Homo sapiens: one gene and its partner. The protein of the gene in region 1 purifies or fractionates together with the protein of each later gene. This does not show direct contact. Each region holds a gene or a part of one and is shown in the gene's direction. Other genes may lie near its edges.

Evidence for each region.
Region 2: the proteins of IL33 (region 1) and GALM purify together in Homo sapiens (affinity purification with mass spectrometry; one large-scale study listed by BioGRID and IntAct). This does not show direct contact.

The regions. Positions count from the first base shown.
Region 1 is NC_000009.12:6,255,919-6,258,583, forward strand, and holds the end of IL33 (interleukin-33 isoform a precursor), read left to right. Parts: intron 1-49; coding exon 50-250; 3' UTR 251-2,065; downstream 2,066-2,665. UniProt on the Homo sapiens protein: Cytokine that binds to and signals through the IL1RL1/ST2 receptor which in turn activates NF-kappa-B and MAPK signaling pathways in target cells. Involved in the maturation of Th2 cells inducing the secretion of T-helper type 2-associated cytokines.
Region 2 is NC_000002.12:38,664,581-38,669,053, forward strand, and holds the start of GALM (galactose mutarotase), read left to right. Parts: upstream 1-1,533; 5' UTR 1,534-1,581; coding exon 1,582-1,771; intron 1,772-4,473. UniProt on the Homo sapiens protein: Mutarotase that catalyzes the interconversion of beta-D-galactose and alpha-D-galactose during galactose metabolism.

The DNA.
Region 1 (2,665 bases):
TCTGAACTTCCCATTCACATATGGATTGCTTTCTCTCTTGTTTCCTCAGCTCCATAAGTGTGAAAAACCACTGCCAGACCAGGCCTTCTTTGTCCTTCATAATATGCACTCCAACTGTGTTTCATTTGAATGCAAGACTGATCCTGGAGTGTTTATAGGTGTAAAGGATAATCATCTTGCTCTGATTAAAGTAGACTCTTCTGAGAATTTGTGTACTGAAAATATCTTGTTTAAGCTCTCTGAAACTTAGTTGATGGAAACCTGTGAGTCTTGGGTTGAGTACCCAAATGCTACCACTGGAGAAGGAATGAGAGATAAAGAAAGAGACAGGTGACATCTAAGGGAAATGAAGAGTGCTTAGCATGTGTGGAATGTTTTCCATATTATGTATAAAAATATTTTTTCTAATCCTCCAGTTATTCTTTTATTTCCCTCTGTATAACTGCATCTTCAATACAAGTATCAGTATATTAAATAGGGTATTGGTAAAGAAACGGTCAACATTCTAAAGAGATACAGTCTGACCTTTACTTTTCTCTAGTTTCAGTCCAGAAAGAACTTCATATTTAGAGCTAAGGCCACTGAGGAAAGAGCCATAGCTTAAGTCTCTATGTAGACAGGGATCCATTTTAAAGAGCTACTTAGAGAAATAATTTTCCACAGTTCCAAACGATAGGCTCAAACACTAGAGCTGCTAGTAAAAAGAAGACCAGATGCTTCACAGAATTATCATTTTTTCAACTGGAATAAAACACCAGGTTTGTTTGTAGATGTCTTAGGCAACACTCAGAGCAGATCTCCCTTACTGTCAGGGGATATGGAACTTCAAAGGCCCACATGGCAAGCCAGGTAACATAAATGTGTGAAAAAGTAAAGATAACTAAAAAATTTAGAAAAATAAATCCAGTATTTGTAAAGTGAATAACTTCATTTCTAATTGTTTAATTTTTAAAATTCTGATTTTTATATATTGAGTTTAAGCAAGGCATTCTTACACGAGGAAGTGAAGTAAATTTTAGTTCAGACATAAAATTTCACTTATTAGGAATATGTAACATGCTAAAACTTTTTTTTTTTTAAAGAGTACTGAGTCACAACATGTTTTAGAGCATCCAAGTACCATATAATCCAACTATCATGGTAAGGCCAGAAATCTTCTAACCTACCAGAGCCTAGATGAGACACCGAATTAACATTAAAATTTCAGTAACTGACTGTCCCTCATGTCCATGGCCTACCATCCCTTCTGACCCTGGCTTCCAGGGACCTATGTCTTTTAATACTCACTGTCACATTGGGCAAAGTTGCTTCTAATCCTTATTTCCCATGTGCACAAGTCTTTTTGTATTCCAGCTTCCTGATAACACTGCTTACTGTGGAATATTCATTTGACATCTGTCTCTTTTCATTTCTTTTAACTACCATGCCCTTGATATATCTTTTGCACCTGCTGAACTTCATTTCTGTATCACCTGACCTCTGGATGCCAAAACGTTTATTCTGCTTTGTCTGTTGTAGAATTTTAGATAAAGCTATTAATGGCAATATTTTTTTGCTAAACGTTTTTGTTTTTTACTGTCACTAGGGCAATAAAATTTATACTCAACCATATAATAACATTTTTTAACTACTAAAGGAGTAGTTTTTATTTTAAAGTCTTAGCAATTTCTATTACAACTTTTCTTAGACTTAACACTTATGATAAATGACTAACATAGTAACAGAATCTTTATGAAATATGACCTTTTCTGAAAATACATACTTTTACATTTCTACTTTATTGAGACCTATTAGATGTAAGTGCTAGTAGAATATAAGATAAAAGAGGCTGAGAATTACCATACAAGGGTATTACAACTGTAAAACAATTTATCTTTGTTTCATTGTTCTGTCAATAATTGTTACCAAAGAGATAAAAATAAAAGCAGAATGTATATCATCCCATCTGAAAAACACTAATTATTGACATGTGCATCTGTACAATAAACTTAAAATGATTATTAAATAATCAAATATATCTACTACATTGTTTATATTATTGAATAAAGTATATTTTCCAAATGTATGTGAGACTATAATGATTTTATCATATGATGACTCAATATTCTGAAATTTCTTTTTTTATTATACTTTAAGTTCTAGGGTCCATGTGCACGACATGCAGGTTTGTTACATATGTATACATGTGCCATGTTGGTATGCTGCACCCATTAACTCATCATTTACATTGGGTATATCTCCTAATGCTATCCCTCCCCCTTCCCCCACCCCACAACAGGCCCTGGTGTGCGGTGTTCCCCACTCTGTGTCCAAGTGTTTTCATTGTTCAATTCCCACCTATAAGTGAGAACATGCAGTGTTTGGTTTTTAGTCCGTGCGATAGTTTGTTCAGAATGATGGTTTCCAGCTCCATCCATGTCCCTACAAAGGACATGAACTCATCCTTTTTATGGCTGCATAGTATTCCATGGTGTATATGTGCCACATTTTCTTAATCCACTCTATCACTGATGGACATTTGGGTTGGTTCCAAGTCTTTGCTATTGTGAATAGTGCCGCAATAAACATACGTGTGCATATGTCTTTATAGCAGCATGATTTATAATCCTTTGGGTATATACCCAGTAATGGGATGGCTGGGTCAAATGGTATTTCTAGTTCTAGA
Region 2 (4,473 bases), on another chromosome or scaffold:
ATCTCATTAAGGCCCTTAATAGCTTTATCTTAATCCTTCTGCCATCAGAGCCTATTTTTTTGGGGAAAAAAATTCAGATTACTCATCAAGCCTTAGAGCAATATTTCTCTAAATCTGGTCCCAGATAATCTGCAGAAGAATAACTTGGGAACATGAAAAATGCAGATTCCTGAGTTTCACCCTAGACTTCCAGAATTAGAAATTCCAGAGGTGGGGACTGGGAATATGCATTTTAAATGTCCTCAGCAAATTCTGAGACACAATCAAGCAAGACAATTATTTAATAACCTTAGTGTCTTTCCTCTCCAACTGTACATACCTGAAGACTCCATCCTACTTGTAGAAAAGGAGATAACAAAGGTTCAGTACCTGGCATTTACAAGGACCTCAATCAATACTTGTTCCCTGAATCCCTTCTTAAAGGAACTGTGGACTTCAGGAGCCAGAAGACACCAGAGGTCCCTTTCCAGTCCCTTGAAGTAAAATAAGTCTGAGGCTGTCTCTAATCACCTCCGCACACCGAGGGCCTAATCCATCTACCTGACCCTGTCTGGTCCAAGCTCCTCGAGGCTGGCACAGCTTTGGCCGTCAGGAGAGCCTTCTGGGCAGTGGCTCTAACAGAACCATGTCCAGGACTTCATCCGTGGGACAAAAAGAGTGAATCTTCAGTAAGTCTGTGTGCAGAGAAGCCTGAGATGATTTACCTCATTTCTAAGCTACTACTGTACTTTGTTGTTGTTGTTGTTGTTGTTTTGAGACGGAGTCTCGCTCTGTCACTCAGGCTGGAGTGCAGTGGCGTGATCTCGGCTCACTGCAAGCTCCGCCTCACGGGTTCACGCCATTCTCCTGCCTCAGCCTCCCGAGTAGCTGGGACTACAGGCCCCCACCACCACTCCCAGCTAATTTTTTTTTTTTTTTTTTTTTTTTTTTTTTTTTGTATTTTTAGTAGAGGCGGGGTTTCACCGTGTTAGCCAGGAAGGTCTCAATCTCCTGACCTCGTGATCCGCCTGCCTCGGTCTCCCAAAGTGCTGGGATTACAGGCGTGAGCCACCGAGCCGGCCAACTACTGCTGTACTTCTTACCCCCTGTATCAAAGAGTTAAAATCTAATTTTTTCCCAAGATCGGTCTCACTGTAAGTCTGCTATCTGTATTTTCCCATTCTTCGTCTGATAGCCACCGACATTAATGACCAGCTCATTACATGTTGAGGTGTGGGGAGATGGGGGTAGAACCCCGTCAACCCAGGATTCGAGTTTAGAAAGACTACAAGCCCCAAAATGCAATTTCACCTCCCAAAAACTACCATTCCCAACATGCAATGCAACCAGGACGAGCCAAGGAAAAAAAGTACAAGTGTGGCTGCAAAGTTTGCCCCTCTTGTTACCCTCAGGCAAATGATTGATTTAGAAAGGCCCCAGGGGCTATTTTTTGCAGGAACGGTCACTCCCTAAATCCAGGCAGGGAAAGGGAGGAGTCTGAGCCGAGTCACGCCCCTTCTCCTGTAAACTTGGGTCGCCTCTAGCTTAGCGAGCGCTGGAGTTTGAAGAGCGGGCAGTGGCTGCACACGCCAAACTTTCCCTATGGCTTCGGTGACCAGGGCCGTGTTTGGAGAGCTGCCCTCGGGAGGAGGGACAGTGGAGAAGTTCCAGCTGCAGTCAGACCTCTTGAGAGTGGACATCATCTCCTGGGGCTGCACGATCACAGCCCTAGAGGTCAAAGACAGGCAGGGGAGAGCCTCGGACGTGGTGCTTGGCTTCGCCGAGTTGGAAGGTGGGTTGAACTGTGCCCTGGGCTGCGAGCAGGCCCCAGGCCCACGCTACATACCTCCCGGATCTAGCGGGCCACTTGCAATGCGAGGGACCAAGGGGGAAAGTCGCCTAGCTTGGGACCGTCTGACTTGCAAGCGCATGCATCATAGAGGGCCGTGTGGCCATCCAGCATTTGGGAAAAACTGTAATAAATAAACTATGGCAGTTGGCCTCTGGTTATCCGTTCAGGCTTTGCCCCAGTTAACGTAAAAGGTCAGCTGATGGTATGATACACTTCAGCGATCCTGGAGCGATCTTTGAACTGCCTAATCTTTGAACTGCCTGATACCTGGAGAAGGCTGGAGAGGAAAGAGCAGGCAAGAGGGGGTGTGGCTCCCACTTCTTCCCTTCTGAAGAAGGAAATTCAAATACTTGCCTCTTCTACTTCCTTCTTCCTTGATCAGATTCTCTTTGAGGCCTGGTTGTCTCAGAAATGCTCCACTAAGCTCAGTGGTTGCCTAGTACACCAGCTACCCAATAACCATTTAGGAACAAAATAGAGAAGACCAACTCAGTGTCTTCTCAGAGATCAGGTCTCCTACCAACTAGGATGGACTTTTATCCCAGAATCCATGGGCAATTAGGATCAGGCATTAATTAATACATTTGACAACTCTATTAATCCGATGACCTCATTAAACAGGACAGACAAGGTCCCCACTCTTGCGGTTTGGCTGGGGAGATAGACTTTAACTCAGTAATTGCATAAATAAAGAATGACAATTGCAGCTTGATTGCAGCAAAGGAAAATGTACATCATGCTCTCTTAGCACCATGGTGTAACTAGACAGAAAATGAGGTGTGAAATAAAGCTGGCAAAGGGAAACTGAGAGTTAATACTCTCTGCTCAGTGGTTGGGGCGTAGACAAATTCTGCTGGAGAGGAGGTTTGAGGTTTTCCTTTTGGTGTGTCATTCTGTCTGTTTGGTTCTTCCGATACGTAAGATATGTAACTTGGCTCATGGTTACATGTTGGCCAGACCAGCCTGGCCAGCATGGTGAAACCCTGTCTCTACTAAAAATACAAAAAAATTAGCTGAGCATGGTGGCACGTGCCTGTAATCCCAGCTAGTCAGGAGGCTGAGGCAGGAGAATAGCTTGAACCCAGGAGGCGGAGGTTGCAGTGAGCCAAGATTGCGCCACTGCACTCCAGCGTGGGTGGCAGAGCGAAACTCTATCTTAAAAAACAGAGAGCAAATTTCAATTCCTCAGGGAAAAAAACAAAACTCAGCTTTCTGTTGAACACCACCATGCCCGGCTAATTTTTTTGTGTTTTTGGTAGAGATGGGGTTTCACCATGTTGGCCAGGCTGCTGGCGGGCACCTGTAATCCCAGCTACTTGGGAGGCTGAGGCAGGAGAATCACTTGAATCTGGGAGGCGGAAGTTGCAGTGAGCCGAGATTGCGCCACTGCACTCCAGCCTGGGCGACAGAGTGAGACCCCATCTCAAAAAAATAAAAATATACTCTAACCTTTCCCTCTGCCTTTCTGTGTAACAGCTGACCATAAAGAAATTAAGACCCTCATTCCAGAGGGGTCCTGCCCCATACCCGGAGGAAGAAATGCTGCATGGGGAGGCCAAGAAAAATCTGAACACAGGCCTTGCCGAGTTTCCCCACTCACTCTATTAGCAACAGATCTTACCCTTTTGGTCCAATCATATTTCTACATGGCTGTCCATGTTCCATTGGACCTAAGCATAGAAATGGATTGTTTTCCTTGTATCTGTCGGTCTTCATTCTGAAAGCTCCCGTGTCACATAAAACTATAATCAAATAAATTTGTTTGGCTTTTTTATGTATTTTTTATTTTTTAGAGGTGGAGTCTCGCTCTGTCACCCAGGCTAGAGTGGAGTAGTGCAATTATAGCTGACTTGCAGCCTCGAACTACTGGCCTCAAGCAATCCTCCCACTTCAGCCTCCCAAAGTGCTGGGATTACAGACATGAGCCACTGTGCCCAGCTGTTTTGCTTTTCTCTTGTTACCCTGTGTTTGTTGTAGAGGTGTGGGCTGTGACTCTTACAGGGGAGATATACAACACTCTGTTACTATTTTGATGGTGCTCTGATACTACATTTCTAGTGCATTAAAACCTATGTTAACAATAAACTGGTAACAGTGGTTGTTAAGAAAGGATCCTGGGTGCCCAGGGTGCAGAGGATGGGAAGGAGACTTAATTTTCACTGCATATTCTTTTAAACCATCAGAGTATGTAAGTATATATAAACAAACAGAGGTAAATAATTTAAAGTAATAAGACTTGACAGAGGCCGGCATGGTGGCTCACACCTGTAATCCTAGGAGTCCAAAGTGGGAGGATCGCTTGAGGCCAGGAGTTTGAGACCAGCCTGAGCAACATAGTGAGACCCTGTCTCTAAAATAAATAAAAATAAATAAATAAATAAATAAATTTAAATTTAAAAAAAATTTTTTTAAATACTTGACAGAATAAGGGGTTATCTTGACATTACCATATCCCAAAAATGGTTTTGAGCCATGCGGAAGATCTGAGCGTGGATAATTCCATGAGACATGGTCCTTTTGTAACTGCAGAGTTAGATATGAACAATCTTCAATTTCCCAGACAGGTTATATAAACTGTTTGGATGACAGCCATAACCAGAGGTCAGAATGGTTCAGTTTCTCCCTGGGAAAATGGGATTTTT